4 linked regions of the Homo sapiens genome follow. The protein of the gene in region 2 interacts with the protein of the main gene of each other region in a pairwise test. Each region holds a gene or a part of one and is shown on either strand. Other genes may lie near its edges. The genes, in order: TMEM91, UPK1B, GPR161 and VSIG1.

Region 1 (7,950 bases), on a different chromosome or scaffold from region 2:
CTGGGCATGGTGACACATGCCTGTAAATCCAGCTACTCAGGAGGCTGAGGCAGGGGAATTTGCTTGAACCCAGGAGGCGGAGGTTGCAGTGAGCTGAGATTGCACCATTGTACTCCAGCCTGGGCAACAAGGGTGAAACTCCATCTCAAAAAAAAAAAAAAAAAAAAAAAGGAAGCCCTAAGACACCATGAAGAGAGAGAAAAGTGCCCAGCCAGCCCCTGACTGTTCTAGTTCCACCCACCAGCTGAATGCAACCTCAAGAAAGATCCAGAGGCAGAACCATGCAACTAAGTCCCAAATTCCTGACCAACAGAAACCGTAAGAGTTCATCATGATTGTTGCCTGCCTGCCTTCCTTTCTTTCTGCTTTCTCCTTCCTTCCTTCCCTCCTTCCTTTCCTTGTTTCCTTCATTCCTTCTTTCTTCCTTCCTTCTTTCTCTCTTTCTCTCTCTCTTTTCTTTCTTTCCTTCCTCCCTCCCTCCCTCTCTCTTTCTCTCTCTCTCTCTCTCCCCCCTCTCCCTCTCTTTTTCTTTCTTTCTGTCTGTCTTGCTCTGTTGTCCAGGCTGGAGTAAGGTGGTATGATCACAGCTCATTGCAGCCTGGGCTCAAGCGATCCTCCCACCTCAGCCTCCCAAGTAGCTGGTACTACAGGAACACGCCATCACACCTGGCTAATTTTTTTTTTTTTTTTTAAGATGGGGTCTTTCTAATTTTCGGAGGACAAAATGAAAAATTAAATAAAAATAAAGATGGAGTCTCACTAAGTTGCCCAGGCTAGCCTAGAACTCCTGGGCGAGGCAGTCCTCCTGCCTCGCCTTCTCAAAGTGCTGGGATTACCAGTGTGAGCCACTGTGCCTGGCCTGGAATGAGAAATTATAAAAAGTGACAACAGTAACTTAAAAAAAAAAAAAAAAAAAAAAAAGGAAGGCTGGGCATGGTGGCTCACACCTTTAATCCTAGCACTTTGGGAGGCCAAGACAGGCAGATTGCTTGAGCTCAGGAGTTTGAGACCAGCCTGGGCAACATGACAAAACCTCTTCTCTACAAAAAACACCAAAAAATTAGCCAGGCATGGTGGCACATGCCTGTGGTCCCAGCTACTCAGGAGGCTGAGGTGGGAGGATTGCTTAAGCCCGGGAGGTCAAGGTTGCAGTAAACTATGATCGCTCCACTGCACTCCAGCCTGGGCAACAGAGCGAGACCCTGTCTCTCTCTCTCTCTCTCTCTCTCTCTCTCACACACACACACAAAGAGGGAGACAGCAGGGTGGACAAAAGCCAGAGGTGCATGCACTCTGAAGACACCAACCAGCGGAGTCTGAGATCAGAGGGAAGACAGAGCCAAAAGCCAGGCAACAAAGATGAGAGACATAAAACAAGAAGAACCGTAACTGGAAATCTCAGAAGCCCACACACAGCTGGGAAGTGAGACTCCAGGCCTAAGGCAGATCGGCACAGCTGTCAACCTGCCAGATGCTGGCCTTAGTGGGGCTCACCCCAGCCCCCTCCCGTGCCTTCCACTAAGGCCTGCTGTTTCCTACCTCAACATCAGGGGGCCTTGGTTCCCCCAGGCCAGCGCTCACGGAGGGAAGAGGCGGTGACAGGAACTGCAAACCCCTCAGGGACTCGGCAAAGGCTATCTCTCTTAAGGGGGACCCCAGCTCATGCCTGCCAGGCTTCTGGGCAGGGGTCTCACATTCTGTGCCCTCCAGCAGAGGCTGTTGAAGCTCACGAAGACTAGGGCTGTCCATGGCTTTGGGGAAACTCCAGGAGGGGTTTCCTAGGGGTAGGGGGAAGAAAAAGACAAGTTGTAAAAGTCTCACTTCACTCAACCTCTGACCCCTTGCTTTAGAGAGACTCAGGCAGAGACTAGTTAGTGCAGTGGTCCTCAGACCCATTTTACAGATACAGAAGCTGAGGCCCAGAGAGAAAAAAAGATTGGCCTCAGGTTATGAAGAGAACTCAGGGGTCTGGACATTCAATTTTGGGCATTTCTCTCTCTCTCTCTTTTTTTTTTTTTTTTTTGAGACAAAGTCTCCATCTGTTGCCCAGGCAGATCCACCACTGCAGATCCGCTAGAGTGCAGTGGCATGATCTCAGCACACTGCAGCCTCCACCTCCCGGGTTCAAACCATTCTGCCTCAGCCTCCCGAGTAGCTGGGATTACAGGCGCCCACCACCATGCCCGGCTAATTTTTTTTTTTGTATTTTTAGTAAAGATAGGGTTTCACTGTGTTAACCAGGCTGGTCCCGAACTCCTGACCTTAGGGGATCCACCAGCCTTGGCCTCCCAAAGTGCTGGGATTACAGGCGTGAGCCACCGCACCCAGCCAAATTCTGGGCATTTCTCTCAGGCAAAAGCCACATACCCATCACACTTACCCCAATAAGTTGCAGCACCTGTTGCACCATGCCTTACACACTTACCTGCCCCACAAACACCCCCAATATCCATCCCAGGTTCATACCGCGTGACCACCTATCCAGGCCCAGGCACCCCTCCCAGTCACACACACACCCATCCCCTACCCCCAGTGCTGCCTGGAACTGCACTCTAGTCTACATTCCCCATCCTCTGTCCCCTAGACCTGCCCCCCGAAGTCCCCTGCCACACAGCCCCATCTAGGCAAGCCCAGCCTCCACCTCCACACATTCATCTCCCAAAGGACTCCTTGAATATTTGCCCCAAAACATCAGCTCCCAGAAAACACCCCTTTCAGGTCCCCAACCTTCTTACACATTTATCCCAATTGACTCCGTGCACAACCCTACTCCCCACTGCATCACAAACCACAGACACCTGTGCACACACGCACACATGCACCCCGGCACTCTCTCCTATTCTCATGACCTCTGGCATGCCTGCCCCACTCATCAGGCCCAGGCACCCCTGCCCTACTCCACCCACACACCTATGACTCCACACAACTCCCACACATGCACCAGCTCTCCAGAATCCTTTGCACACCTCGCCCCCATAAACACCCTCAACCCCAGCACACACATACACGTACACACGCAACACAACCAGAAAGAATATTCTTCTTCTCGTCCTACGATCCCCCTGGAAGGTCCCCAAGCCTCCTGCCTGCTCATTCCAAACCTTGACTGAGCCGATTTCCTCGCCAAAGCTTTGCCCTCTCATCCCCAACTCCAGGACCCAGGGAAGGGACTGTGACCCCCACCCACCTACGTCCCTCACTCACCGCTCACGATCACAGGCCGGGGCTTCCTGAACCCTCGCAATGACACTTGCCCGGACCCTGCCACCGAGGATCCAAGGGGCGCTGGGACCTTGCGCTTTGCTCTACGCGGGTCTCAGCGCCCCGGGCCCGCTGCGCGCGGGGGCGGGGACGGGGCGGGGCGACGGCTTCCCAGGCTCTGTCCCTCCGCGGCGTCCGGCGAGGGATCCCTGAAAGCCGACGTCAGCGTCCAGGAACGGGTTCCTACGACTCCCGGGGGTCTGGGAGCAGGCGGGAATCCTTGGAGAACTGCAGCCCCTTCCTCGTGAGCCCAGGCCCAAGCTCTGCCGGAGGAGGGGGCACCCCGGATTCTCCAGGGCCTTCCTGGCTTGGCCCCGCCTCCCTTCCCCTTTGCGCAATAATAGCCAATAATAATAACAGCAACAAGGACCGTGCGCCCTGTTCTAAGTGCTTTGCAAATAAACTTACATACACATGTATTCCTCAGCACAACCCTAAGAGGCATAATCGTTTATTGTCCTGTTTCACGCGGGAGGAAACTGGCAAGCCGAGGTTAGGTAAATTGCCTAGGGGTACATCATTGGTTCATTGAGGGCAGACTGTACCCAAGCCCTGTGTTAAACGCTTTACATTCATCATCGCATTCATTCTTCCTCTCAGCTCCGGGTTTTTCTTGTTGTTGTTGTTGTTGTCGCTGCTATTTTACTTTGGTTTTTTTGTTTGTTTTGTTTTGTTTTTGAGACGGAGTCTTGCTCTGTCGCCCAGGCTAGAGTGCAGTGGAGTGATCTCGGCTCACCGCAACCTCCGCTTCCCGGGTTCAAGCGATTCTCCTGCCTCAGCCTCCCGAGTAGCTGGGATTACAGGGGCAAGCCACCACGCCCAGCTAATTTTTGTATTTTTAGTAGATGAGATTTCGCTGTGTTGGTCAGGTTGGTCTTGAACTCCTGACCTCAGGTGATCTGCCCGCCTCAGCCTCCCAAAGTGTTAGGATTACAGGCGTGAGCCACCGCGCCCGGCAGATTTTTTTTTTATTATTATTTTTTAAAAGACGGGGTCTTGCTCTGATCGCCCAGGCTGGAAGGCAGTGGCGCAATCATTGCTCGCTTCAGCCTCAGACTCCTGGGTTCACTGCAGCCTCGGCCTCCCAAAGCGGTGGGATTACAGGTGTGAGTCACCGCGCCTGGCCTATTTTGTTTTGGGGTGTTTTTTTGCGGAGGAGTGCTGAAGGGGTGTTGGCTTGTTTTTAATCCCTGTTTTGCAGATAAAGAAACGGGCTCACGGGCCGGGCGCAGTGGCTCACGCCTGTAATCCCAACACTTTGGGAGGCCGAGGCGGGCGGATCACGAGGTCAGGAGATCCAGACCATCCTGGCTGACACGGTGAAACCCTGTCTCTACTAAAAATACAAAAAATTAGCCGGGCTTGGTGGCGGGCGCTTGTAGTCCCAGCTACTTGGGAGGCTGAGGCAGGAGAATGGCGTGGACCCGGGAGGCGGAGCTTGCAGTGAGCCGAGATCGCGCCACTGCACTCCAGCCTGGGAAACAGCAAGACTCCGTCTCAAAAAAAAAAAAAAAAAAAAAAAAAGAAAAGAAAATAAACGGGCTCACTTGCATGCTCACTTGGCCACAGTAAACAGCTGGTACCAAGCCCAGCATATTGTAACCCCGGGCTGTGTTCCTGTGGCCCTTGCTAAGCCAATGGGTGAGGAGGAAGCAGAGGCAGGTGGGTTAGGAGTTTCTAGGGAAAGAAGGCTGAGGAGTGGGGTCCAGTAGGGGGTGATGCTCTGATTGTCACGTGGTACAGTGATGTTCATGAGTCAGCATTTGGACCCACATAGACCTGGTTTCCTTTCCAGGCTCTTTGTTTGTTTGTTTGAGATGGAGTTTCACTCTTGTTGCCCAGGCTGGAGGGCAATGGCGTGATCTCGGCTCACCGCAACCTCCGCCTCCCAGGTTCAAGCGATTCTCCTGCCTCAGCCTCCCGAGTAGTTAGGATTACAGGAATGCGCCATCACACCTGGCTAATTTTGTATTTTTGGTAGAGATGGGGTTTCTCCATATGAGTCAGGCTGGTCTTGAACTCCCGACCTCAGGTGACCCACCCGCCTCAGCCTCCCAAAGTGCTGGGATTACAGGTGTGAGCCACCATTCCTGGCCCCTTTCCAGGCTCTTTAAGTCACTGAGTGTGTGGCCTCTAGACAATGCCTTCACCTCTCTGAACCCCTATTTCTTCACCTACAAAATGGGGATAATGCTCCTTGCCTCTTATGTGATAACATATGTAGAGTACTTAGAGTTGCTGCAACAACAAATGTCCAACATTGGGAGCCTCTCTGAACCTATTTTGGTTTAGGTGCTGCCTAGGAAATAGAAAAATAAAAAATAAAAAGAACAGATATCCAACATTTATCCAAAGCCTGGCAAAGAAAGCACTCTGAACACATTTGATGGTGTTTATTAATATTATTATTTACATCCATCTCCATCGGACTGATTACAAGACTATCATCGTCTTGCAAGCTTCCACCTCCTTCATGGAGCCTTGTATAGGCCTCCCTTCCCAGAAGCCCTCCGTCTCACCAGACTGGAGGATTCCCTGGCCTTTGTGGGGCCGGAGTTCCCTCGCTCCAGGGCTCCAGGGCTCCTTGCCAAGAGTCCAGATGCTGGCGCTGGCACCGGCCCCACTCCCAGGGAGAACAGATGGCGTCTGCAAGTGCACTTGGCTCAGCCAGTTTCTGGCAGACGACAGAAGCAGGGAGACCCACGGGAGGGTAGACGAGAGCGTGAGGGGGCAGGATTGTTTTACTCAGGAGGGATGCCCTGTTACTTTCTATCTCAACCTTGCTCTCATTCTTTTCATATTTCTATGAAGCATACTGTAGGCCAGGTGCGGTGGCCCACGCCTGTAATCCCAGCCCTTTGGGAGGCCGAGGAGGGAGGACTGCTTGAGCCTAGGAGTTCGAAACCAGCCTGGGCGACATAGCAAAACCCCAGTCAGCAAGGCTGGAGTGCAGTGGCACGATCTCAGGTCACTGCAACCTCCATCTCCTGGGTTCAAGCCATTCTCCCACCTCAGCCTCCCAAGTAGCTGGGATTATAGGAACCTGCCACCATGCCCAGCTAATTTTTGTACTTTTAGTAGAGACGGAGTTTCACCATGTTGCCCAGGCTGGTCTCAAACTCCTGACCTCAAGTGATCTGCCCGCCTTGGCCTCCCAAAGTGCTGGGATTATAGGCGTGAGCCACTGCACCCGGCCTTAAACATACCATGTATTTTTCTTGTTTGTAGTTTGAATCCTCCCACATCAGTGTCGGCACAACAAGGGCTGAGATTTGATCTCGTTTTTTCACTACTGTGCCTCACGGCCTAAAACAGTGCCTGGCACAAAGTGGGTCTTTATTACATATGTGTGGGATGGGGGCATAAATTCCCATCAGCCTCCAGCCTCAGTTTTTCACCAAATCATTGAGCTCTGTGGGTCCCCTCATCCCTCTAGGCCATCCTAGAGATTAATTCACTTCCAGTGAGAGCTCTCTGGCTGCCGTTAGCCTTGTACAGTCTAAGAGGCTACACCTCTTAGTGTTTGTGACAGGTCTGGAATATTAAACATGAGATTCCAGCTGGGTACGGTGGCTCAAGCCTGTAATCCCAGCACTTTGGGAGGCCAAGGTGGGAGGATTACTTAAACCCAAAAGTTCAAGACCAGCCAGGGCAACAAAGTGAAATTTTGTCTCTACAAAAAATAAACAAAATCAGCTGGGTGTGGTGATGCATGTCTGTGGTCCAAGCTACTCGGGAAACTGAGATAGGAGGATTGGTTTAGCCCAGGAGGTGGAGGTTGCAGTGAGCCATGATTGTGCCACTGCAGTCCAGCCTGGGCAACAAAGTGAAACCCAGTCTCAAAAACAAAAACAAAAACAAAAACAAAAGATCACGAGATTCCAGCAAGGATTGTCAACAGAGACTGAAACTATTAAGTTATTGGGTGAAAATCTGATTTGATAAAGAACAGGATATTTATTTAGTCTCAAAGTAGCTTCCCCTAGATTACTTATTATAACAAAAAAAAATTAATGGAGAAAATTGGCAAACATCACGTTAACCAGATGATACAAGTTAATATCACCATTAACAGGACAAATTGACCTTAGTTGCCTCTGGTCTGAAGCAAAGAGGGAGACACATACCATTTCTTTGGTTTTCCTGCCAAAATGCATAACTTAAATCTAATAATAAGAAACATGAGACAAAGCCAAAATGAGGGACACTCTACAAAGGAGGTCGCCTATAACCTTCAAAACATCAATGTTATGAAAAAACAAAGTAATAATAATAAATAACAATAAAATAAAGTGCTGGCCAGGTACAGTGGCTCATGCCTGTAATCCCAGCACTGTAATCCCATGCCTGTAATCCCAGAGGCTGAAGCAGGAGGATTGCCTGAGCCCAGGAGTTCCAGGCCAGCCTGGGCAACACAGTAAGACCCCCATCTCTCCCAAAACTTTTTTTTTTTAAAGGAAGTCTCACTCTGTTGCCCAGACTGGAGTGCAGTGGCGCAATGTCAGCTCACTGCAAATTCTGCCTCCCAGGTTCAAGTGATTCTCCTACCTCAGCCTCCGAGTAGCTGGGATTACAGGCACGCACAACCATGCCCAGCTAATTTTTATATTTTTAGTAGACACAGGTTTTCACCCTGTTGCCCAGGCTGGTCTCGAACTCCTACCCTCAAGTGATCCCCACCCCCGCCCC
Region 2 (7,601 bases):
TTCTCTGTCTTTTCCTGGGGACACTGAACATTCTCTCCTGGAGCAAAACTGTACTCAGAGGCACCAAGTACAGCTGGCTGAGGTTGGCATAAGTCCCCATGCAGAGAAGAGACTCTCATCTTAAAAGAAATCACTATGAGGCCAGGGGAACACATACTGTAGGGTGGCTTAGGCTAGGAAAACAGAGAATGGGAGAGAAAGAAAGATGTAGAATTGAGAGCACGTCTTAGCTGAGGTAGAACAGAGATCCTCCCATTGGAAGGCCCATGGCCATGGCAGAGTGGTGAAACCCACAGGGGATTACAAACTTGGGCCCTGGGAGTCAGGCCATCTGGGTTCAGAATTCTTGCTCTTTCAGTTGCCAACTATGTCACTTTAGACAAGTCATTTTACCTTTCTGTCTCATTTTTTTTCCTTTCTCAAATGACCAGAGTGATAATGCCTATTTCATAGATTTATGAGGATTAAGTAAAATGATAGATGTATTATTACTGTGCATATTGGATTGCCTGGGCACATAGTAAGGGGTTAATACATGTTGGTTGTTATAATAATGATAATTCATATTATTTTGCTTTTTGAGGTTGTACTCACAAAGTCTTGTTGTGTTGCTGCTGTGATACAAGATGCCACTTCAAAGGCATATACTATAAACATCAGAATGAAATACTGGAAGGGAAATAAATGAGATAAAAGAATTACATTTACCCGTCAAAGAGCGACTTGCCCAAATAATTATGTTTTTTCAGCAAATTTATCATATAATCATGTAATCACTCATGTAGTTATTCAACAAACCCTCATTGACCAGTGGCTTGGATTGAGGCTTGGTGCTAGTCAGCTCAATTCTCTCCTTTTCTCCAGAGAACAAATAGCCATTGAATACAGACCTTCCTCAGTCCAGTTTCCTGAGTTTCTATTTTAACTGGGAAAAACAAGTACAAGAGAATGAACTGGTGTGTATGTGTGCACACACACATGTGAGCATTTACATGCTCATTTACATGTGTGCATTTACATGCATGTGCATGCTCAGTGAGTGGCAAGAGAGTCTTAGTGTATCACATACAGTATAGGGCCTCATAAATCCCCTTTAATTTTGGAATTTTGGAGAAATTTTCTTTACAATTTGCTGAAAATTTAGAATCACGGAGTTCAGAAAAAGATGAACTGGATAATGTTGAACATCTAGGGTCCTTCCTAACAAGCATCCAGTCTCATCAGAGGAGAGGCAGGCTTCAAGTGCACAGCATTTGTGGGTGTTCTTTCACACGCACCCACACTCAAAGTACATTGGTTCAGTTGAGTGAAATGGCATTTGCTGTGTGTGGTAGTGGTGGTGTGTGTGCGTGAGCATGGGCACATGGGTGCGTGTGCACATGATACCTCCACATGACAGTGATGCTATTTCTGGCTGGAAAATATCCGAACAGCAAATGACCTCTGAATCTGGGATGGGGACTGTTTGCAAGAGTTCCAGCTTTGCCTTCCCCAGGCTTGCACACACTCTTGGGAGAAGGGGCACTGTGGTCAGTGTCAGCAGGGTAGGCAGGGAAAACTGTCCTCCTCTTTGGGTATGGGAGGCTCTCCGAGCAGGACCCTCTGTTGCCCTCACTACTCAGCCCAGAATAAAGCTCTGGCTACAGTCAACAGCAGGAGCACCTTCAGAGGCCCCAGAACATTTTTTTCCTGTGTTAGCTGCTGCCTTGCTCCTTGCCAAGAGCTTTGCTGGCTCCTGGTAAAGACGCTCCAGAAAGGAGGTATGCAGTGAGGTGTTTCCTCCTTTAGCCCCTTTGCCTCCCCAGCTCAGTTCTCCTGGTTGTCAGGCATGCACATGGCTGGCCCAAAGTGAGGCTGGGATGCAAGTGAATTTGTCTTTAGGAACACCTGTGTCTCCTCTCCCTTTTTCCTGTATTCCTTTCCCCACCCACCAAAAGTGGGTACTTTTGCCCTGGAACTTACGCACACTAAGGAACCAGAGAATGTAAATGTTCTGTAATCCATTGGAACCAGGACAGTGGTTAGTTAAAAGGAAGAGTAAACTAACAAGCACCTTACATTGCTGGACTCATTCTATAAAGGGGGAACTGAGGTCCTGCAGCATTTGAATAAAAGGGTTATTTCAGGGGTGGGGGATTGGAGGCGTGTTCCATAATAGTGTGAAACTGCTGCCCTAAGTATTAGGGCAGACAGTAGGGGTCCACGTCTGAAACAGGTTTCTCAGCTCTGCTGCCTGCAAATTTGCTTTCATCTGCAAAGGCAGGGCATGGTCTTGCTGTCTATGGTTTGGGGCAGAAGCCTCTCCTTGATGTACAGAGTTAAAGCCCCCACAGGCAGGTGTGAGCTGAAGGCTCACTCTACAGTGGTGCTTATCAAGGTTTTCTGGGGTCCCTGAAAAGCAGATTGGATGATAATGTGGGGAGTATAGGCTATGATACAGAATCATCAACCTTGAGCTCAAAAATCTTTGAAAGCTTATACTTTCTTTTAAAAATGTATGCATATTTTATATTTTATATCCTAATATATTAATGCCTAATTAATATCAAAATGTTTTAAACAAGTTATTGCCAAGAGAAAAAAATCTAATGAATGAATTCTCACTGTGTCTCTCCTTTGGCCTATATAGCTCCTAGCTGTACCTACTGGGTGTATGCAGACACCAGCTGTAGAGGCACAATATGGAAAATACTCATTAGGTCACCCCCAGGTGTCTCCCCTTTGGCTTCTCTGTACTGGAGCCTTCTGGGCTTGCAATAGTGGAGGGCATCTTTGCCTCCATGTGGACCATTTCACTGCAGGGAAAGTCTTCCCCTCCTCACCCCTTATCTGGTACTTCCTGCTCCCCCACTGAAAGCCAAAGCATTGCTCAGTGAAGAAGAAAGAATCCATTACAATTGGCTCAGGGAGACAACTCCAGAGAATTTTGAGGTCTTACCGCCAGAAGAATTTTCCTGCTGGACTTCATGATGCCTACAATGCCTAGAACAGACAGGCAGAAGAGGCAGATGCCCACAAATATGCCGATCCAGGCAGCCCCATAGATGTCATCGTTGTCGGTGGCTTCAAGCAGTGGGTAGAGGCTGTGTTGGTCAGATACAAAGAAGATGCACTCCGCAGTCAGGGCAATGCCGCAACACTGGGGGCAAATGAAAGGTGGGCTCCATCAGGAGTGCAGCTTTGGGAAAGGGGGTGGAGGGTGGGGAAGGTAAGAGTGACTGGCTCCCTTTCCTGCACAGGCTTTATGCAACTAATCTAAACTCCCCATTGCCAGGAAATCAAACAACTACTTCCATCCTACTAACTGGTTGCATACATCCCTTCACATGTTATTCTGTCTATTTAGTAACAGACCCACACAATTTCAGACCATCCACAATGTCCTTGGGGCATGAATCACTCAAACAATGCTTTCTGGTATGAGAATGATCTCCCCCTGCCCCCATGTCATGACCCACATTTCTGGGTTGTAATATTTGAGCTGGTCCTGGTCATATTTATCAATGACAGCTGAGAGGAACCTTGCTGCTTATCTTTGCCAACACCCACATTTTATAGATGAGGAATCTCAGCCTTGAAAGGTGATGGCCAGAGTCATATGGGGAGTCAGAGGGAGAGCTGGGCCAAGAGCTCTGGACTCCAAAACAAATGTTCTTCTATGCCACCAGACCCACACAGTATGGCCTCTGTATTATTCTTACACCCTGGTACTGGCCTCTGTATGAGAAGAACAAGATGCAAGCATCTGTCCCAAAAAACCTTAACAGCAGAGTCCCATGGAAATCAAACCAAGGTGACATAGAAAAGAAATAGTGAAGTGTGTTCGTAGTCAGAGTGTTTAGACACTGACTATGGTTGACATGACTCCTTTTAGATACTTATATTTTAAAGTTGGGAGGAAAATATCTACTTTTTCAACCATGATCTTTTGACATACAGTTAAATTCTAGCTAGCATATTTACTAACACATTTCTTAAAATGAAGCAAAAATATAGGAAGCCAGTAATCACAGCATTATTTTCCTTTAAACTCTTACTTTTGATTCATCTAGAATTATGATTACAGGAAGTGCAGAATTTCCTGGAAAATAATCATTACTTACACCAATAATCACATTTCCAAAAATCAGCAGGCCCTGGAAGCAACGAACAGTTGAGTTGTCTTTGGCCATCTTCGGGATTTCCCACAAGCTGAAGGCACTGTTGAAAGCATTACCAAATAACTGCTACAGTTTCTGTAACATGAGTAAACCAAGCCATTGCGTATTGCCTCCTTGTTCCCAAAGCATCCAAACCAAAGCCATATAATCTTTTAGCGATGAAGGACATTTGATTATTGAGCTTGGTAATCACATAACTTTTATAAAGAATGAAAAGAATATAGCCTTCCAGAGCCTGGTCAGTGCCTTTCAGGAGTTCTTTCAGGCAAGGAGTGTGCAGAATGCATCCTTCTGAGTGGTGGACTGAGCCCCGCAAGGTGGAATGCACAAGGGGTAGACCTGAGATGGTGATTGGGTAGGGCCAAACACACTGAGGGTCCCTGGCATAGCCCTCACTGCCCTTGGCCATGACAAATGGAAACCCAAAGGGTAAACTCATGGCCAGAGGTAGTGGTTGGTTCCCATGTGGACTGCAGGGTGCTTTTAAAAACTATCATTTTCTGACTCTTTTATTATCTTCAAAGAAATAGTTGGCAAATAAAAAAGTGCCCCGTTGTATATGAGGGTAAGTGAAAACGGGGACTAGAATTTACTTCCTTCTGCCAGGTGTGTGCCACTCTACCAGGTGCTTTGCATGCACGCATCTAATTCTCATAACCCAGTTCGGTAGCAAAAGAAGAAAGGCGAGGAGGCTCCATTTTGCAGATGAGGAAACTAAAGCTTAAATTTGTAAATTAAGTTCCCTGGGGTCACACAACCAGTAAGTGGCAGAGCTAGGCTAGAGACCTTGGTGTGTGTGACTCCAGAGTCCACGTGCTTCCCCACAGCCCACAGTGACTCCCAGAAACTATGTATAGACTTTGGTGCCATACACAGCTGAACATGGGTCTCTCACCTCCCTGAGGATTTTCTGGAAGGAACACAAAGGTAAGTGTGTGGGTCAATCACTTGGGCTTCTGCACTTGAAGCACCTTGAGAAAAGCCATCTACAGCTCTCAACATTTAATTAATCAATTCATGCATTCCTGCTGTAAATAAAAAATGTATTAAATGGTTCAATATGCATTCTGAGGCATACAAAGATATGTAAGGGAGATTATTGTATTCTAGGATTTTTTGCGTTAGTAGGGAAACTAAGATGCATTCCCACACAATTATACTACATGTAGTGAGATGAAATATTGTGAGAGTCCTGAGGCGGGAAGACGTAAGTCTTGCAGGATGTGTATGGTTTGATATGTAGAGTAGAGGTGGATATGTGTGGGAGTGAGGTGGGGGTGGGTGACATTCCAGGTAAAGAGAAAGGAAAAGTTAGGGAGTAGAGACAGAAGAGCAAGGTGCCCACAAGATAGCAAACCAGTCAATTTGGTCAAAGTCCTAGTTTTGTAGGGTAGCAGTGGGAGGCAAACCTTCTATTTGTCTCAAGCCTTGCTAAATTTTAACCTCATTGTTACACTGTAAGTATTAACAACCTTCCAAGTAAGTTTAGACATCTCTAAATGTTTTCCTTTATCTGTTTACCTGGGTAGCTGTGACAAGTTCAGTTAAAATTTATGAGCACTTTTAGCTCAGAATTTGGCACACAGTGGGTACTCAATTCATGTTTGCTGGAGAAATGGAAGAATCTGGGCCATTGCGTCTCTGTGTAGTTTCTGCTTAGAAATGCCATTCATTTCTTTCTGCTTAGAAATTTCATTCATTCTTTCCAGTTATTGTTGCGTGTTAGACTGCACAAACTCCCCCAAGGGGGAAACTTACTCATGTAGCTGGTTGAGTCACATTGTAAAGTTCATTACTGGTATGTACAGACATTATTCCTGACCAGTTGGGTTAGTATCTAAACTAGAGACAAAAGTAAATAGACTGTGAAACGTAGGAGTTCAGATAACAGAAGCATAGAGAGGAAAGGGCAGAAATCAGTAGAGGCCAAATTCAGCACCGATATCAACTCGTACTGATTATGTACTGTGTGAAATAAGACAATTTCTTCTTTCAAGAAGTTTATTTTTATTATTATTATTATTTTTTGAGACAGAGTCTTGCTCTGTTGCCCAGGCTGCAGTGCAGTGGCACGATCTTGGCTCACTGCAACCTCCGCCTCTCAGGTTCAAGCTATTGTCCTGCCTCAGCCTCCCTAGTAGCTGGGACTACAGGTGCCCACCGCCACACCTGGCTTTTTTTTTTTTTTTTGTATTTTTAGTAGAGATGGGGTTCCACCATATTGGCCAGGCTGGTCTCGAACTCCTGACCTTGTGATCTTCCTGCCTTGGCCTCCTAAAGTGCTGGGATTACAGGCGTGAGCCACTGCGCCTGGCCTCAAGGAGTTTAAAGTGCAATTACAGCGTGGGTTCAAAGGAAAAATGACCGTGCACATCAAGGGGACAAGGAGGGCTGTGGAGAAAGACAGAGGCACCGCTGAGGGGCTTTATTGGTCCAGAAAGGAACTGCAGGGGCCCCGATCAAGGGAGGTGGCCTGGGTGACCCAATTATGCCCCGTGACGTACAGACTTTTCCAGAGATGACTCTGCCACACAGAGTTTAGACAAAGGGGAAAGAGCAAATGAATATTCTATGGGAGAATTGCAGGAGTCACAATTAGGGTGGAAAACGCAGATAAAAGTGGGAGAAAAGAAGGAAGGTAGAAACTTGCTCTGAGCAAAAAGAAAAGCATAAATTGAAGAAACCTAGGCAAGGACATGACAGAAATGCCAGGGAGGCAGCCCAGCTGTGGGTTGGTTATTGGAAGGTGGTGATATGTCAGTGGGCAAGATATTCTGAATTTTCTGGCCACTAAAATGTTCTCCTTTTTCACTATGCATTCTCTTCTTCTCCCTTAGGCCTTTGGTATCAATGGCACATGATAATTTAGCTACTCCTGTCTTCCAAGATAAGGAAATAGTGATGAAAACTGCCATTTATTGGGCACTTACAATGCTCTGGGCACTATGTTAGGCATTTGATATTCATCTTCTCAACAGACCTGAGAGATGGGTTTTTCAGGTCTGCATTTCCTATTGCTGCTGAAACAAATTACCACGAACTTCGTGGCTTAAAATAACAGAAATGTATCTTACAGTTCTGGAGGGCAGAGGTCTAAAATGAGTCTCACCAGGCTAAAATCAGGGCTATGTTGCTTCTGAAGGATCTAGGGGGAGAAGCTGTTGTCTTGCCATTGTTTGTATAAAGAAAAGGGGCCGGGCATGGTGGTTCACGCCTGTAATCCCAGCACTTTGGGAGGCTGAGGTGGGCAGATCACCTGAGGTGAGGAGTTCGAGACCAGCCTGGCCAACATGGCAAAACCCCGTCTCTACTAAAAATACAAAAATTAGCCGAGCATGGTGGCGGGTGCCTGTAATCCCAGCTACTTGGGAGGCTGAGTCAGGAGAATCGCTTGAACCTGGGAGGTGGAGGTTGTGGTGAGCCATGATTGGGCCACTGCAC
Region 3 (8,239 bases), on a different chromosome or scaffold from region 2:
TTTTTATCATGTTTTATATAATAGCAATAAACTATATATTCACCTATGTTTCCAGGCTTGGTGACCATATTGAGCACACTGAAAAAGACCTAAAAAGACAGACATTTACAGTGGTTATCTCAAAGGTGGGGAGAAGGAGTAGAGAAGAGGTGGAGGGGAATTTAATTTATTTTCCTATATGTTACTGTGTTTTAAAATATTTACAGCTCTTAGTTTTGAAAAATTACTATATTCCATGAATGCTTTACATTATTTACCTAAGGTCACAAGTTTATAAGGGGCAGGGCTGGGAGGTAGGCTGTCTGACTTCAGATAGTGCTCTTAACACAGTGTTCTCTCACCCATTGCTTGAGTATAAAACAAACACAAACTAAAATAAAATTGAAATATACCTCCTCATGCTTTACCCCTGGCCAACTGCAAATTCCTTCCTTTATGCTCCAGCACTCCCTGAACATATTTGCCATGAATGCTATCCTCTCCCCTGCTGAGCACATAAAATGTGCAAGGAAATAGATTAAAACTAGTTGTAAGCCTTTTCTCTTGGTGTAGAAACAGAGTCATAGACGAGTACTGGGTGAATGAATGAAGTATGGAGTCATAAAGTCAATCCCTCCTCCAAACTCCAGGTAGCACTGATAGCTATCTCTAGTTCTGTTGATGTTTTTTGTTCTTATAGAAAAACAGCAAGAAGACACCATTTCTCCCCTGCTGTCATGCTTTACTGCATCTCAGAATGACAGTCAGTGCTTCCCAAGGTCTCACACAGAAGACGCAAGCAGCCTGCACACATAATTTGGTTAAACTGCACGCACATTAAAAAAAATGTTTTGAATCAGTTGCTATCTTTAAAAATATATGAAGCTTGTTTTCCGTAAAAATTTACAGTTTCCCCCAAAACTAAGATCAGGCAACCATGTGCTGGAGCCCCACCGCACCTGCAGCTGCCCCCTTACTGGAGACAGGCTTAGCAGCACACAGCTCCCACCCAGCCCTCCTGTCCACCCGCCTCCTGCACTCAGGCTTCCTGACTGGTCCCTGCTGGCAGTGGAGTTTACACCACAGAACTGTACCTCCTCTTGCTGACATTTAGGTCAGTTCCAGTTCAGCCCATTCTGTCTTCCTCGGAACCCAAACAGAGAGCTCGCAGCCCTCTGACCACACAGTGCTCCTTCACCTCTCAGAGGACGCACAGTGCACCAGGCTGCAACACAAAGAGAACGGTTCGGATATCGTTGCGGCCTTGGATTAGTTCCAAAATGTCAAGCGGGCCTCTTAATGAGGGGTCTCTATTCTTGATGTTATGGCAGTGGAGCTACAGGGCAGGGAGAAGCCCTGAGTTAAAGAACTCACCTGTGTGCCATCAGGAAACCACGTGAAAAGCACTACCAAGGCAAAAGATCTGAGTTCAATCTGGGCTGCTTACCTAGCTGGGCAAGAATGCTTCATCTCTCCTGAGCCTCAGTTTCCTCACCTATCAAATGGGCTAGTAGAGCTTCACAAGGTTGTTGTGTGAATGAAAAAGTGTACATGAAAGTGCTTGTAAGCACCTGACAAGTATAAAATAAGACGGGTGTGGAGGAGGACCGGAAGAGAGGTGCTCTGAAAGAAGTAACAGAAATGGGTGCCATGCATTCCAGTTACAGTTGAAGAGCCTCTGTCTCTATGACCTGAGGTCCCTCCCACCTCCTCTTTCTGCCCTGAGGGCCTGAAAAATGCCTCTCTTCACTTGCTCCCAGTGGCTGCAGTAAAATAGATTATAAGGGAAAACCGCCTATTCCCCGAAGCAGTAGCTCTCCAGAACTCATCTGGAGGTCCAGGTCACTAGGGGAGAAGAAGCCAGGCTGAATCCACGCCTGGCTCCACGGAGGAGCCACAAGGATGGCCATCCTCCCCCAGCCCCTAGGACGCTGAGACAGGCTCACCGGAGGTTATCGGTGTCTCCATTGGACAATCAAGGAACTGAGGTTCTTTCCCTCCAAAACCACACACCTCCTCACGGCTTCACCGGGAGGTGGATCAAATGACCTGCTCTATGAAAGCACTTTGCAAAAGGGATGAAAGTACAATAACAAGCAAAAATAGCCTCCAAGATGTGATATAAAGCGATGCCAATGCGCAGCTATGTGGTTACTGGTGAGCAGACCTCCGGGAAGCACAGGACACACCCCACTTACCCAACAGACGTTCTCATCCCATATGCCTTTGTCCAAAGGTTGCACGGGGGTTAAGCTTGGCCCAGAAGGCGCCGAGGGCTGGTCGAGTTCTCCCCTTTCCAAGAACCAGCCGAATCTCCCTCCCGCAGATCTGAGGGGCAGAGCCGCCCATCCGGCGGCGCCGGGCCACTTCTGGGCGCGCCACCCGCCGCCCGCCCAGGCTCGGGGAGACAGCGCCCTGAGTCCCGGCTGGGAGAAGGCTGCTCACCTGGTCCTCACGGATTCCAGCCGAGGGGCGTGACCGCTTCTCCCCACACCCTTTGCCCTGAGCGGGACGTGGAGTCTCTTGGCCCCAGGGGGCGCGGCCCGCATCGGCAGAGTCCCGGGCACGCACCTACGCCCTCCCATCCAGCGGACTGTTTAGGGGCTTCGGGCGGCGCCGGAGAAACGGGGCGGGCTGCACCCAGCAGAATGGGGTGGGCCTCTCAGAAGCCCCAGGCCGCAGGGGAGGGGCGCGCCCCCAACATCTTCCCACAAAGAGCTCCAGCTCTCCAAAGCAAGGCGCAGTGCGGGCGGAGGACAGCCCTGACCTCCGAGAGGGGCGCGGGGAGAAAGGGAGCGCCGTGGGGGCGGGGACCCTTCCCGGCCCGCGCCCTGAGCCCTCAGCCTCGCACAATGAGTTTAGCCTGGCTCCATCCGGACCGCCCTCTCCGCCCGGGCCCGCGCCCGCGCCCCACGCCGGGTGCTCACCGAGGAGCGGCCGCCGCGGCAGCTCAGGCCCCGGCCCAGCCGCCTCCCCGCCTCGGCCACCGCCGCCGCCGCTTCCTTCCTCCCCGCCGCGCTCCGGGACTGGAGGTTTCGGGTTTCAGCCCACCGAGCCCCGCTTCGCTCCTCCCGCGGGCCAGCCACCAGCACGCGGACCCGGGCGGGCGCAGGCCAAGTAACTTTGCGGCGCCCGCGCCCCGCCCCGCCCCCCCCACGCCCGGCCGGGCCCCTCCGGCCCCCGGAGCCCCGAGCCGCCTCCCCGCGCCCCGCACTGCCCCGCCCCGCCCAGCTCCCGGCGCCCCTCCCCACCCGCGCCCCTTCCTTCGCGTCCGTCCGCCCGCCCTCCCGGCTGCTTCTTTCCCATTTCTTCCCACGAACAGCCTCGGCTGCTGCTCTTTGTCTCGCCCTTACCCTCTCGGCTCGCCCCACTTTTCTCCTGAAAACCTTTGTGGTGCCTAACTCAGGCCTTCCCTGTTCCCGTTCCTCCGCCCCAGTTCCAGCCGCTGGGACGTCGCCTTTTCCATGTCTCTCTCCATCACACAGACACTTTCAGATTCTTCCCGCAGGCTCCGCACAGTCCCATTCTCCTCCTCCAGTCCCGCCGTGGACGATCCTGGTATCGCCTTTGCTGCTCACCTTTCATTCATCCAGCCGACGGGCACGAGCATCCATCTGCCTTCTGCCAGGCTCTGTCCCGGGCTCTGTTAATACCACAGTGAATTCGTCCCGAAGCCAGCCCCGGGGAGTGGGGAGTGGACGTAAACAGGTCTTCACACTGCTGCCCTGCACTCCCTCGGAACCAAAAGGCCAGGGAGCAGTCATCACAAAACAAAGAGCGGGCGCTGTCAGCTCGGGGGACGGAACAGTTCCTTCTCAGAATGTTTGTTTTCCCTTCCTCACTCCCCACTTTGCCTGCCTGTCTCCAGACTCCTACGTTTTCTATGCAGCAGTCTTAATAAGGGGATGAAAAGTTGAAGCACAGAGTAGAACTGCTAAAAAGGGAAAGAAGGAAGGACAAACAGGGCAGCAAAATAATCAGGTAAGAAGTTACAAAGCCCAGTTCACTAAACTCCAGAAAAAAAAAAACAAACCCTGATGCTGTGCTTAGAGCAGGATTCACATTCCTCTGAAATCCATCTGCTTTGATAAATACATTAATTATTCCCTTGTCTACAGATTGACACTGTGGGAGATGCTTCCTTAATATTATTGGGCCACTGAGGCACAATTTAGAACAGTAATTTACTGTCTGGCACCTGCCAAACACCCACATTGCTCTGGGGACAAATGGGATAATGGGGAGAAAAAAGTAAATGGGTGCCTTAATATTCCTATGGGATAAATGCTTTATTTGGTCAAAAACTGGAAGCTGACGCTCCACTTAAGAGTCTAGGTCACGCGGCAAGCCAGACACTTGAAGGAGCTTAAAGCTTTCTGTTCTTAATAGTATTTTAGACACTTATTTTGAAATCCCTGATATTTATTTAATTTACACTGACTCAGATGTCGGCTAAGCTCTATGAGCCTGAGGGAGTGAGTTAACCTTCCTCTCAGCTTATTCATATATAAAATGGGGATACTCATACTTTCCTATCTGTAGAGTTGAAAAGGTTAAATGAGGTCATGTAAGTAAATCATCCAGTGACATAGAATCTGAGAACTAAACCCTTTTGAAAATTGGTATTCACGAAAGGTCTGAAAATATATGCCACAGACTGGCATGGTGAGAATGAGAATAAAAAATAAACAGTTACGGCTGTTGTGGCTCCATACCCATCCATGATGCGAAAGATGTCCTTCATACTGAGCAACCTTTTCCCATACTTACTCTATTTCATTTTGAACTCTTCAACAGAAAACACTTTTTTTCTCCTGCTGCTCATTATCAAATGCATTATTTATCACAAAGATTTTTCTTTTTTCTGAGCTCATAAGCTCAGAACTTACTGTGCATTCAGGGATGGAAATTGCTGCCAACAAATGCATTTTCAATTGCTCTCTTAAGATTTTTTTCCCTTCTGGAGCTAATATTGAGCTATGAGCAGAATTCAATCAGATGCAGAGAAAACAGACAAATTATTATTAAAGTAATTATTTCACCGTATATCATTGTATAGGTGACAATTGTGAAAAACGTGACTGATTTTGTGCAAGAATGTATTTATATTTTTTTAGAAAAAGAGAAAGATACACACTAATTCTCCTTTCCCAAATTAGTTTAATAAACCATTCTGTTTTAGAGACATCCACAAAGACTTATAAAGTAAGATAATGAGAGGCCTTGTCCAACTGAACCTCACATGTGTGTTGAATAATTTATATATAAAACATATTTTATGTAAAATATCATTTCAGTCTAGCAGTCCACATAAAACTGGTGAAAGCAAAACTGTGAAATATGCTATTTGTTCCACATGGAATGTTATTTCCTCCACTCTTTACAGGCCAAGCCCTTCCTGCCCTTCACATCTCACCTTAAATGTCACTTCCTTAGAGAAGTCTTCCCTGATGGGATCTTGCTATGTTGCCCAGGCTTGTCTTTAACTCCTGGGCTCAAGCTATCCTCTCACCTTGGCCTCCCAAAGTGCTGGAATTACAGATGTGAGCCACTGCACTCAGCCCCTGACCAATCTAAAAGAAATTCTCTAATCTATGTACTCTTTCACAGCTCTGTTGTTTTTCTACATAAAATGTGTCCAAATTTATAAAATATGCATCAATTTTTCTATTTATTTGTTTACAGTATGCCTCCACTGATAGAATGGTAAAACCATTTGACCTCAGATGGAAACTTCCCTGAAACTGATGTGCCTCTGGACTGATCAGAAACAAGAGCCAATCAATATACATATATTTTTATTGAATCAGTATGGGTTTATTTCTGTTACTTGGAACAGAAAGCATCTCACTCAGTGATTCTTAATACGACATTTTGAAAGGCATTTTGGGTTTGTCACAATGATTAGAGGACACCCCAGGCATTTATTGGGTGCGGCCCAGGATACCAGACATCTTGCAGTACATGAAATAGTCCTACACAAAAAGAACAGTTCCTTTCACACATGACAGTAAAAACTGTCTATACTTTTCTAAGTCTGAAACCAAACTATTTTACATATATCCATGAGGGGTTTTTTTGCATGGTTTTGTTGTACAGCAATTTGTCTAGGAATGCAAGTACTATGTGAATTGAAGGAAGATTGCACCTTGATTTACTCAAACCTCACCAAGAGTTGTTCAGTATTTTGGAAATCACCTCACTATTAACAATGCCACTCATGGTATCAGATTTACTAGTACAAGTTAGGTGACTTGGTCTACATTTATATATCTGTGTCATACTTGCAGTGATCCTGTCTATAACTTCAAGTGTCTGACCACTTCATGATGTCATCCACTAGGGCTGATATATTGAAATGAGCATTATTGGGCTGGATGCGGTGGCTCACTCCTGTAACCCAAGCACTTTGGGAGGCCAAGGCGGGTGGATCACTTGAGGTCAGGAGTTCAAGACCAGCCTGGCCAACATGGCAAAACCGTGTCTCTACTAAAAATACAAATATTAGCCGAGCATGGTGGCACATACTTGTAGTCCTAGCTACATGGGAGGCTGAGGCACAAGAATTGCTTGAACCGGGGAGGTGGAGGTTGCAGTGAGCTGAGATCGTACCACTGCCTTGTCCTACACATCTCTTCCATCTGGCTTCTCTTGAATTGCATCCTTTGTCATAAACCAGTAATCAAAGTAAGTAAAGTGCTTTCTTGAGCTCTGTGAGCTGTTATAGGAAATTATTAGCCATGGGAACTCCTGATCTGAAGCCAAGTCGGTCAGAAGTACTGGAGGCCCTGGACATTCATGTGGTGCCTGAAGTGGGGACAGTGTATGGGACTGAGCCCTTAATCTGTGGAGTCTGAACTATCTCAGGCAGTTAGTGTCGGAATTGAATTGAATTGTTGGATACCCAATTGGTGTCAGAGAATTGATTGATGTTGGAAAAAATTCCACATATTTTGTATCGGGGGAAAAAAGTATCCTCAAGTACATTTATCTTTTGATCTATTAAAAAAATCCTCAAGTACACATTTATCTTCTGTTGCCAATAAAAAGCAACATTATATATTTGGGATACATTTGTAATTACAGAAGATTAAAAATGCCCAAATGTCTGTCAGTAGGGGATTAGAGGAATAAGTTAGGATTCAGTGCTACAAATGAATGAAGAAAATCTCTATACACTAACATGTAGTGGCCTCAAAGACGTATTGTTAAGTGGAAAAAAGCAAGGTGCAGGAATATTTGCTATACATTATCTTTTTTTTTTTTTTGAGACATGGTCTCACTTTGTTGCCCAGACTGGAGTACAGTGACGCGATCTCAGATCACTGCAACCTCTGTCTCCCAGACTCAAGCGATTCCCCTGCCTCAGTCACCCGAGTCGCTGGGATTACAGGCGCGCCCCACTACCACCAGGCTAATTTTTTATTTTTAGTAGAGACGGGGTTTCACCATGTTGGCCAGGCTGGTCTTGAACTCCTGACTTCAAATGATCCACCCTCCTTGGCCTCCCAAAGTGCTGGGATTACAGGTGTGAGCCACCACGCCCAGCCTATGTTATCTTTTATGTGAGAAAAGGAAAGAAAATAAATATATAGGTATTTGCTTATACTTAAAAGTGGAAAAACAAACCAAAAACAATAAAAAGAAGGTTTCCAATAAGGGAAAGGAACAAACAGAAGGAATGAAAAAGAAAGCAAGGTTTCTAGGAAGGTTCCTTGCTGTATGGCTTTGAAACTAAGTACATATTTTACAAATTTGAGAAAAGTTAACTCAAAAAAGAAAAAACCTCCAAAAACTGAAGAAAAACTAGGATGAATATCAAGTTGGTGGCATATGAACTTTTATTAGTTTTCTGTCACTGCATAATGATTACCACAAATTTAGCAGCTTAAAACACTCTATTATGTTGTCTGGGCTGGTCTTGAACTCCTGGCCTCAAGCAATCCCCTTACCTTAGCTTCTCGAGTCACTGGGATTACAGGTGTGACCCACCACACCTGGCAAAACACTCATTTTTTTTTAATCTCACAGTTTAGAGAGAAGTCCAGGCAGGCTCAGTTGGGTTTTCTGCTCATGTGAATGCCAAAATGAAGGTGCTGGCTAATCTGAGCTCTTATATGGAGGCTTTTGCGGGGACTCTGCTTCCAAGCTTGTTCAGGCTGCCAGCAGAATTTAGTTTCTTGCCACTGTGGGATGGAAACCCCCATTTCTTTGCTGGCTGGCAGTGGGGCCACCCTCTGCTCCCAGAGGCTGCCTGCAA
Region 4 (7,934 bases), on a different chromosome or scaffold from region 2:
GGGCGCAGTGGCTCACGCCTGTAATCCCAACACTTTGGGAGGCTGAGGTGGGCGGGTCGCCTGAGGTTGGGAGTTCAAGACCAGCCTGACCAACATGGAGAAACCCTGTCTCTACCAAAAATACAAAATTAGCCGGGCGTGGTGGTGCATGCCTGTAATCCCAGCTACTCAGGAGGCTGAGGCAGTAGAATCACTTGAACCCGGAAGGCGGAAGTTGCGGTGGGCCGAGATCGTGCCATTGCACTCCAGCCTGGGCAACAAGACTTAACTTCGTCTCAAAAGAATATATATATGTGTATATATATATATATATATATATATATATATATATATATATGTGTGTGTATATATATATATATATGTGTATATATATATATGTGTATATATATATGTGTATATATATATATGTGTGTATATATATATATGTGTATATATATATGTGTATATATATATGTATATATATATGTGTATATATATGTATATATATATGTATATATATATATATATAGAGAGAGAGAGAGAGAGAGAGAGAGAATGTCTTGTATTTTGGTGGTGATTGTTCATTCATTTAATGCCTACAAGGTGGCAAACATTTTGCTTATAGAAGGATTATTATCCTCCTAATGTACCACAGCAAAATATCCCCCAAATATTCATATTTAATCTGATAGATTTGAAGTGATTTAATTTCCAGCAACTTCATATATAATAGATTCATTTTGACTTAGGAAATAATATAATCAAATGATCACTCACTTTTTTGGATTTGAGTGCAAACTCAAAGTTCAAATATATTACTCCTTTAAAATGCATAGCATATACCTCCAGAAAATGAAACCCACATTAACATATCTTTCTAAGAGGTGACTAATACATATTTCAAATACCTAAAATGATATGCATAAATTTTTTGCAGAAGTTTGATTAAAACTCGTTTTCCTGAATTAGAATTTAACCTAAGAATTCCTAAGAAGTCATTGAAAATATTTTGATTTAAGCAAAATCTGACCTGTTTAGTTATATCAAAATCAATTTTAAATATGTATGTGAAAATGATGTCTGGATGTTTGGAATTTGGGAAAGTAATTCATTCTTTCAACAAACATTTACTATGCATCCACTATGTGTTAGGCACCACGCTTAACACCAAAAAGTGACATTCTCTCCAAAACAAGTCCAGGAAGAACATCAAATTGCACATTGATGGAAACACTATCAGTTGTCCAGATCAACTGATGAACACTGCTAATGACAGGTGTAGATTACTAAAGTGATCCTTTCTCTGACTTCAATACATATGTAAGCACAGCAAACGACAATAGAGCATACCACAATTTGCTGTACTGACACTACTGCTTTGGGCCAACTAGATAATATGTGTGTAGATATATAGTGTACACTATATACCAACAAAATCAGTTATATAGTAACTTAGGAAACACACTCTGAAGTATTTATTGGTCTTGTTCTAAAAGTCACAATAAAATAAAATCCTGACATGATGCTAAACAATTTTTTTAAACAATAAAAAAGTATACAAGGAATAAACCCAATTTTTAAAATGTAATATATACACCTGCAAATAAAAGAATAATAATTCACCCAAATCTGAGTGGTAAAATTGCAGATGATTTTTATTTTATTTTAAATTTCCATATTTCCAACCTTTCTACAATGACCATGCATTACATTTATAATCAGTAAAAATTACTTGTATGTTAGGTACAGTTAAAAAAAAAAAAAACTGTTCTTAACAACCGTTCCAAACCCTGTGCCTAGTATGGGCCAGGGCAAGGCTTCACATAGGGAAACAGGTATGATCTTAGAGGGCTGATGCAGAAGGCCCAGGGGTCGACCCAACTGGCTAATGACTGGAAACCCTTTAAGAAGAGACAAAACTTCCATATCTAAAGTTACATTTAAATGAATATGCCTGGGGAGAAGGGAAAATAGGAACATGTGTTTCCAGCTCTAGGGCCTAGTTAGGTCACTGGACAAATGGAGTATTGCCTTCTGGTGATGTTTAACTCCATAAAACATCTATGCTTAAACATTTAGTAATGAACATTTAAAGAACTATTTCTAAACATGAGATCACTTTGAAAAGTAACACTTTTTTCTAATTATAAAAATAGCATAATGTTCTTCGTAGAAAACCCAGGAAGTATGAAAAGCTGGGAAATAAAATTAAAATCATCTATAATCCCATCACCCAGAGGCAACCACCATGAGCACTTCGGTATATAACCTTCTAGTAATTTATTCTAGGCATATGTGTGCATCCTGCTTTTTCACTTAATATTTTATCGTGGGTATTTTCTTATGTCATTAATACGCCTAGTAAACCTCATTCTAACCACTGCCTAATATTACTAATGGCTTGAAAATCCTGTTTTTGGATAAACAATATTATTGTATTTACTATGGACCTAACTTATAAGAACAGATGCAAAATGTATCTGATATTTGAAAACTACCCAAGGGATTTTTGGAATTAATGATCTCTCCTGGATCTAACTAACATCAGTATTTTGATTCCAAAATTGATTTTCTTCTGTTCAGATACCTAAAATCACCCATGTTGTGCACCATAAATCACTCACATATTTTGCAAAATACAGTCTTAGGATTGGAAAACCACAACTCCTTAAGAAATATTAGACAGTAAAGTACTCAGTAAATTTCTGTTCTTCCCATATGTAAGCCAGGGCAGGCCCTCCAACCCAGGCTCTGCCTGCTAGAGCAAGTCAATCACTGAGCTTAAAGGAAACACTAAAGTAAGTAAAACAGAGACAAAATTATCCCTAGCACAAAGTTTGGTTTCTGAGTAAATTCATTTTTTTCACTTTTCAAAGTAAGTAAAGTAATAAACTATATTTTTTTCTGAGAAAATTTTCATTCAGAAGCTCCATAAAACAATAATATTATGGGCTTACACCCCTAATATATCAGCATGGCATATGTTTGCTAAGCAAGAGTTCTGAAAATTAACTCATCATACTAATCACAATTCATTTGAAGTACAGGAGATGAAAATTCTATGTAAAAATGTGGAATTTTTATTTAAAAGGAAACTCTGTTTCCAATTATATTTGGTGGTTTGGAGATCCTTTCCTTACCTGCAAGGCAGCTTAGGATCAGAAAGACCTTCCAAAATGCGAACACCATTGTGTGGAGGTTAGTTGAGAGCAGCAGGTGCCAGTAGCTTGCCTGGACTAGGCTGAGTCTCAAATTGGCTTCTTCGATCACACCGAGGTTTGCCTGGCTTATCTGCTGGGCATCGCCAAGCAAACATGCCTCTTTGGGCTTACTTATTGCGTATAGACTTTTTTCAGTACAGATTTGTGTTTCTTTGAAACACTTTTCATGGGGCGTGTTTCCTTGATATATTTGCTACTGTGTTAATAATAAACCCACGCATTTAAATTATTCAAGCTCCTTGTACACAGATTCTCTAAGTCTCATTGTTTAAAATCAATCTTACTAAAACGTTGTACTTGGGCTGGGGGATATGGTTGGAAGAGAGCCTATGCAAATAAAAGCTGACAAGGCTAATTAATTTCAAATATTTCCATGAGTCTTACAGAATTGATTCACTAACCTCCTTTTACAAATTAAGTTAGTAAATTGGTACTATATCGTTTCCTGGGGAGATGGGGCTCACGGGAAGGGCACAGGGGTTATGAAGCTAAAAAGCATTCATTTCTGTGTGAACAAACTCTGGATATGTTACTCTTTTTTGAAACACTGGCAGTTGTCACTACCCTCCACCAAAACTAGCAGTAAAATGATTTACATGCTTTTGTCTGTCGGGTTAGAAACCTTATAGCACGTATTTGCTAACGTAATTTTGCAAAATCAAGTTAGTGAATACATGCTTAAAGACTTTCTTTGGAGAAGTCTGATTTTTTGGAGAATTAAGATACTCAGTAAATGCTATAGGGTTTCCTTAGAAATGGAGGTTCACCAGGAGGGCATGGGAGGCTCCACAGGTAAGGAACTTTCATGGGAACATGAACTTCTAATAGTGTTCCTATTATGCTTAAGTTACCCGGAGAAACCTAAGGACTTTCTCTGGCTCTTCCCATGTGATTTCTAAGTCCTATCATTTCCATCTCCACAGCGACTTTCAGATGTGTTCTTTCTCCAATCTGCTGCTTCCATCTTGGTCCAGGTACTCAGCTTCCCACTTTGGCCTATCATAGCAGCTTCCTAAGTGGTCTCCCTGACTTATTCCACCTTCATCCTGTGTGCCAGCCGCAGGCCAATGTTCCAGCCCTAGTGAAATATTTCCAGTAACACCATAAATGGACTCTTTCATCAAATCCAAAGTCCTTAATATGGATTCCCATTCTTCCAATATCTGATCCTCACCTCATCTGAACTTTAGCCACATTAACTCATGCCCCTGAAAAAGTATGTCAAGATTTATTGCCTCAAAGTGTTCAGTCACATGAAATGTGTACAAATTTCAAGTGATATGTTTTATGTTCCTGTCTTTAATTTACAGGAAATGTTTGACCCCATCTTACTTTAGCCATTCCAATCTCCCACTGCTTCTTAGAAAGCCATTTTGCTTCCATCATGCCTGATTCCTCCTTGCAGCCTATCCTGTCCATGCTCATGTCTGATGCCAAACGTTGGCTCCAGGTGATTTCCATCACTAGAGTTTTCTTCTTCCTCCTCTTACTAGCCAAGTATATTCTTAGCATAGATCAGTCATACTGTCCTATGTGAGAATTTCAATGAACCGACATACCACCCTAGCATAAATTTCCATTTTACTTAAAGCCAATATCCTACAGCTGACCATTGATTATTCTCCAGTAGTTTCGCATTTATTAACTGGTCTACCTTAAATCTAGTCACTGTGAATCCCTCCAGGGTAGGGACCATGTCTTATACAGGCAGTTCCCAACTTTAAAATGAGCGTGTCCCAAGATGTAATGGTAAACTCGTTGACTGCACGCAAGAACTCCTGCAGAAGCAATGTTATAATATGAGTCTCACTGTCAGGCATGTAGCACATAATCTAGCACTGGCTTGAATTCTGCGTACTGGGCCGTATAAGGCAGTGGAGGGTGAGGAGGAACAGCAGGTGACAGAGAAAGAACGTTCCTTTCATTTCCCAAGATATGACTTGTGCACAAATCAACATTTTCCCCCAAATAACTATTGCATGTCTCTGACATCCACCTTCTCTTCTGCCTCCCACCTTCACGGCCCCCTGGCTCCTGGGTCCCTAGTTTGCCCTAAGGGAGAGTCTCATTCCCCAGAATATCTCATGCTCCAAAATTACTTTTTCCTTTTCACCTCTATTCCTCCCAGAAACCCTCCCTTTCCCCTGTATAAGCAGACAGCAGCTCCATGTTAGGAAGGGAAAAAAAAACGTTTCATTGAACATTCTCCAACCTGTTTGTGCTATTAAAAATACAGTGCTTACTTTCCTCACATAAATCTCTGACCAGGAGAATTAGGCAATGCAATAAAGAGAAATAGTTTGAGGGAGAAGATTTTGCAAAGGAGGACAACTTGTAGGGTGGGTCTCTGGAGATCCATACCACCTTTTCTCAGGCTTGGTTCTGCCTTGACTTCTAAGTCCACCAAGTCTCTAAAAGACCCATAGTTTTCACAATGCCCCCCACCCTGGAAGTAATACCGGTAGTTCCAGTGGTGAGGACGTGGGATGGGGAGCGAAATTTATAAGTCTGGCATTTGTAAGCCAGAAGCTTCCTGTGTTTCCTTCCATGCCCCATAAGTGATTATAGTAGTGTGACCATTGATCATTAAAACTAGGACACTTTTGAAAGTGAAAGGGGCACTATTAGCAATTACCTGGGAAAGACAGCATAAACAGTAACAGTGCCAGACAAACCTGGGTGTCTGGTTACCTACCCACAGGGGATTACTAGGCACAAAGTAGGTGCTAAGTAAGAGCTTGCTAATTAATTCAGTATGTCTGAGTTGGTTGGCCCTAAGATGAGTGCAGCAGAGGGTATGATTTAAGGATATTGCCCAAACCCATCTGCACCAAAATCTGTTGTGCAAACACAAAACACTCTGGAATATTTAAGTAAAATATCTATACTGCTGCTATGTAAGACCTAACCAGGACAGGAAGAATTCTGTTATAACAAACTCTAAAAGAGAATTTAAACTCTCTGCTTGGACCTGGATTTTGATGTTATTAACTATTGCTTAAAAAGTGGGTCATTAACTAGGACACGAAATATTAAATATCCTTTGCAGTTTTATAGAGCTTTATAATTTTTAAACTAATTTTCCATTTTATCTTTGTAGCTTTCCAATACAACAAATAAATCAGGTATACCTACATTTTCTATATAAGAAAACTGAGGCTCAAAAGTGCTGTGCTTTTCCCAAGGTCACCATAGCACGCATTAGAAGCTGTTCCTATCACACCACACAATGGCACGGTGTGATTGTAATGTAACAAATATGCTACTGCCCCCAGTATTCTTCCTTGGGAACTTTCAGAAATATGTGATATCTGATTTATCCCTCATTTTTAACTTAAAAATTACAAAAGTAATACATTTTGATAGTAAATGGTTTTCAAAGGACAAACAAGGATACAGAGGAAAAAAAGTCCCATTCATTCACTCACACATGTAATCCCTTTCCCAGGCTCACATGGAACAGGAGTTTAGCATTTTTCTCAGACCTTTTTCTATGCATGTACACATGCACAAACACACACACACACACACACACACACACACACGAGGTTTTTTAAAACATAAAGATGATAATACTGTACATTTTGTTCTATAATTTGCTTTTCTCCCTTAAAAAAGGTATTTTTATTCTCTCTTTCTGTCACTGGGTCCAACTGCATCTATAGATCAACCTTGTCCATGTTAAGGCTGCATGGTATTTCATGATATGAATGTACCTCAATTTATTTAATCATTCTCTTATTGGTAAATTCTTAGATGGTTTCCAGTTTTTCAATATTATTGACAATGGTTCAATGAACATGTAGCTTTCCAATACAACAAATAAGTCAGGTATACCTACATTTTCTATATAAGAAAACTGAGGCTCAAAAGTGCTGTGCTTTTCCCAAGGTCACCATAGCACGCATTAGAAGCTGTTCCTATCACACCACACAATGGCACGGTGTGATTGTAATGTAACAAATATGCTACTGCCCCCAGTATTCTTCCTTGGGAACTTTCAGAAATATGTGATATCTGATTTATCCCTCATTTTTAACTTAAAAATTACAAAAGTAATACATTTTGATAGTAAATGGTTTTCAAAGGACAAACAAGGATACAGAGGAAAAAAAGTCCCATTCATTCACTCACACATGTAATCCCTTTCCCAGGCTCACATGGAACAGGAGTTTAGCATTTTTCTCAGACCTTTTTCTGTGCATGTACACATGCACAAACACACACACACACACGAGGTTTTTTAAAACATAAAGATGATAATACTGTACATTTTGTTCTATAATTTGCTTTTCTCCCTTAAAAAAAGTATTTTTATTCTCTCTTTCTGTCACTAGGTCCAGCTGCATCTATAGATCAACCTTGTCCATGTTAAGGCTGCATGGTATTTCATGATATGAATGTACCTCAATTTATTTAATCATTCTCTTATTGGTAAATTCTTAGATGGTTTCCAGTTTTTCAATATTATTGACAATGGTGCAATGAACATCCTTTTGTCAAGATCTGCCCACTTGTGTGATTATTATTGTAGATTAGGTCCCTAGAAATGGAATTGCTTGATCAAAGGGTATGTAGTTTACATTTTTGGTAGACTGCAAAATTGTCCGCCAGAAGTTCTTTACAAACCATACCTCCATTAAGAGTGTATGAGAGTGCCTGCTTCTCCACAGCCTTGTTGGCAATGAAAATTATCAGTCTTTTATTTATTTATTTACTCTGTAAACCTCCTCT

What was found.
Region 1: the proteins of UPK1B (region 2) and TMEM91 interact in binary tests that used the Homo sapiens proteins (3 or more experiments, as listed by UniProt).
Region 3: the proteins of UPK1B (region 2) and GPR161 interact in binary tests that used the Homo sapiens proteins (3 or more experiments, as listed by UniProt).
Region 4: the proteins of UPK1B (region 2) and VSIG1 interact in binary tests that used the Homo sapiens proteins (3 or more experiments, as listed by UniProt).

The regions. Positions count from the first base shown.
Region 1 is NC_000019.10:41,372,109-41,380,058, reverse strand, and holds the start of TMEM91 (transmembrane protein 91), read right to left. Parts: upstream 3,527-7,950; 5' UTR 3,205-3,526; intron 2,796-3,204; exon of another isoform or gene 2,736-2,795; intron 1,779-2,735; 5' UTR 1,750-1,778; coding exon 1,540-1,749; intron 1-1,539.
Region 2 is NC_000003.12:119,183,313-119,190,913, reverse strand, and holds part of UPK1B (uroplakin-1b), read right to left. Parts: intron 4,201-7,601; 5' UTR 4,173-4,200; coding exon 4,104-4,172; intron 3,140-4,103; coding exon 2,939-3,139; intron 670-2,938; coding exon 595-669; intron 1-594. UniProt on the Homo sapiens protein: Component of the asymmetric unit membrane (AUM); a highly specialized biomembrane elaborated by terminally differentiated urothelial cells.
Region 3 is NC_000001.11:168,133,833-168,142,071, forward strand, and holds the start of GPR161 (G-protein coupled receptor 161), read right to left. Parts: upstream 3,099-8,239; 5' UTR 2,907-3,098; exon of another isoform or gene 2,565-2,906; coding exon of another isoform or gene 2,425-2,564; exon of another isoform or gene 2,178-2,424; intron 1,205-2,177; exon of another isoform or gene 1,090-1,204; coding exon of another isoform or gene 1,074-1,089; intron 90-1,073; exon of another isoform or gene 44-89; intron 1-43. UniProt on the Homo sapiens protein: Key negative regulator of Shh signaling, which promotes the processing of GLI3 into GLI3R during neural tube development.
Region 4 is NC_000023.11:108,040,365-108,048,298, reverse strand, and holds the start of VSIG1 (V-set and immunoglobulin domain-containing protein 1 isoform 2 precursor), read right to left. Parts: upstream 3,235-7,934; 5' UTR 3,169-3,234; coding exon 3,120-3,168; intron 1-3,119.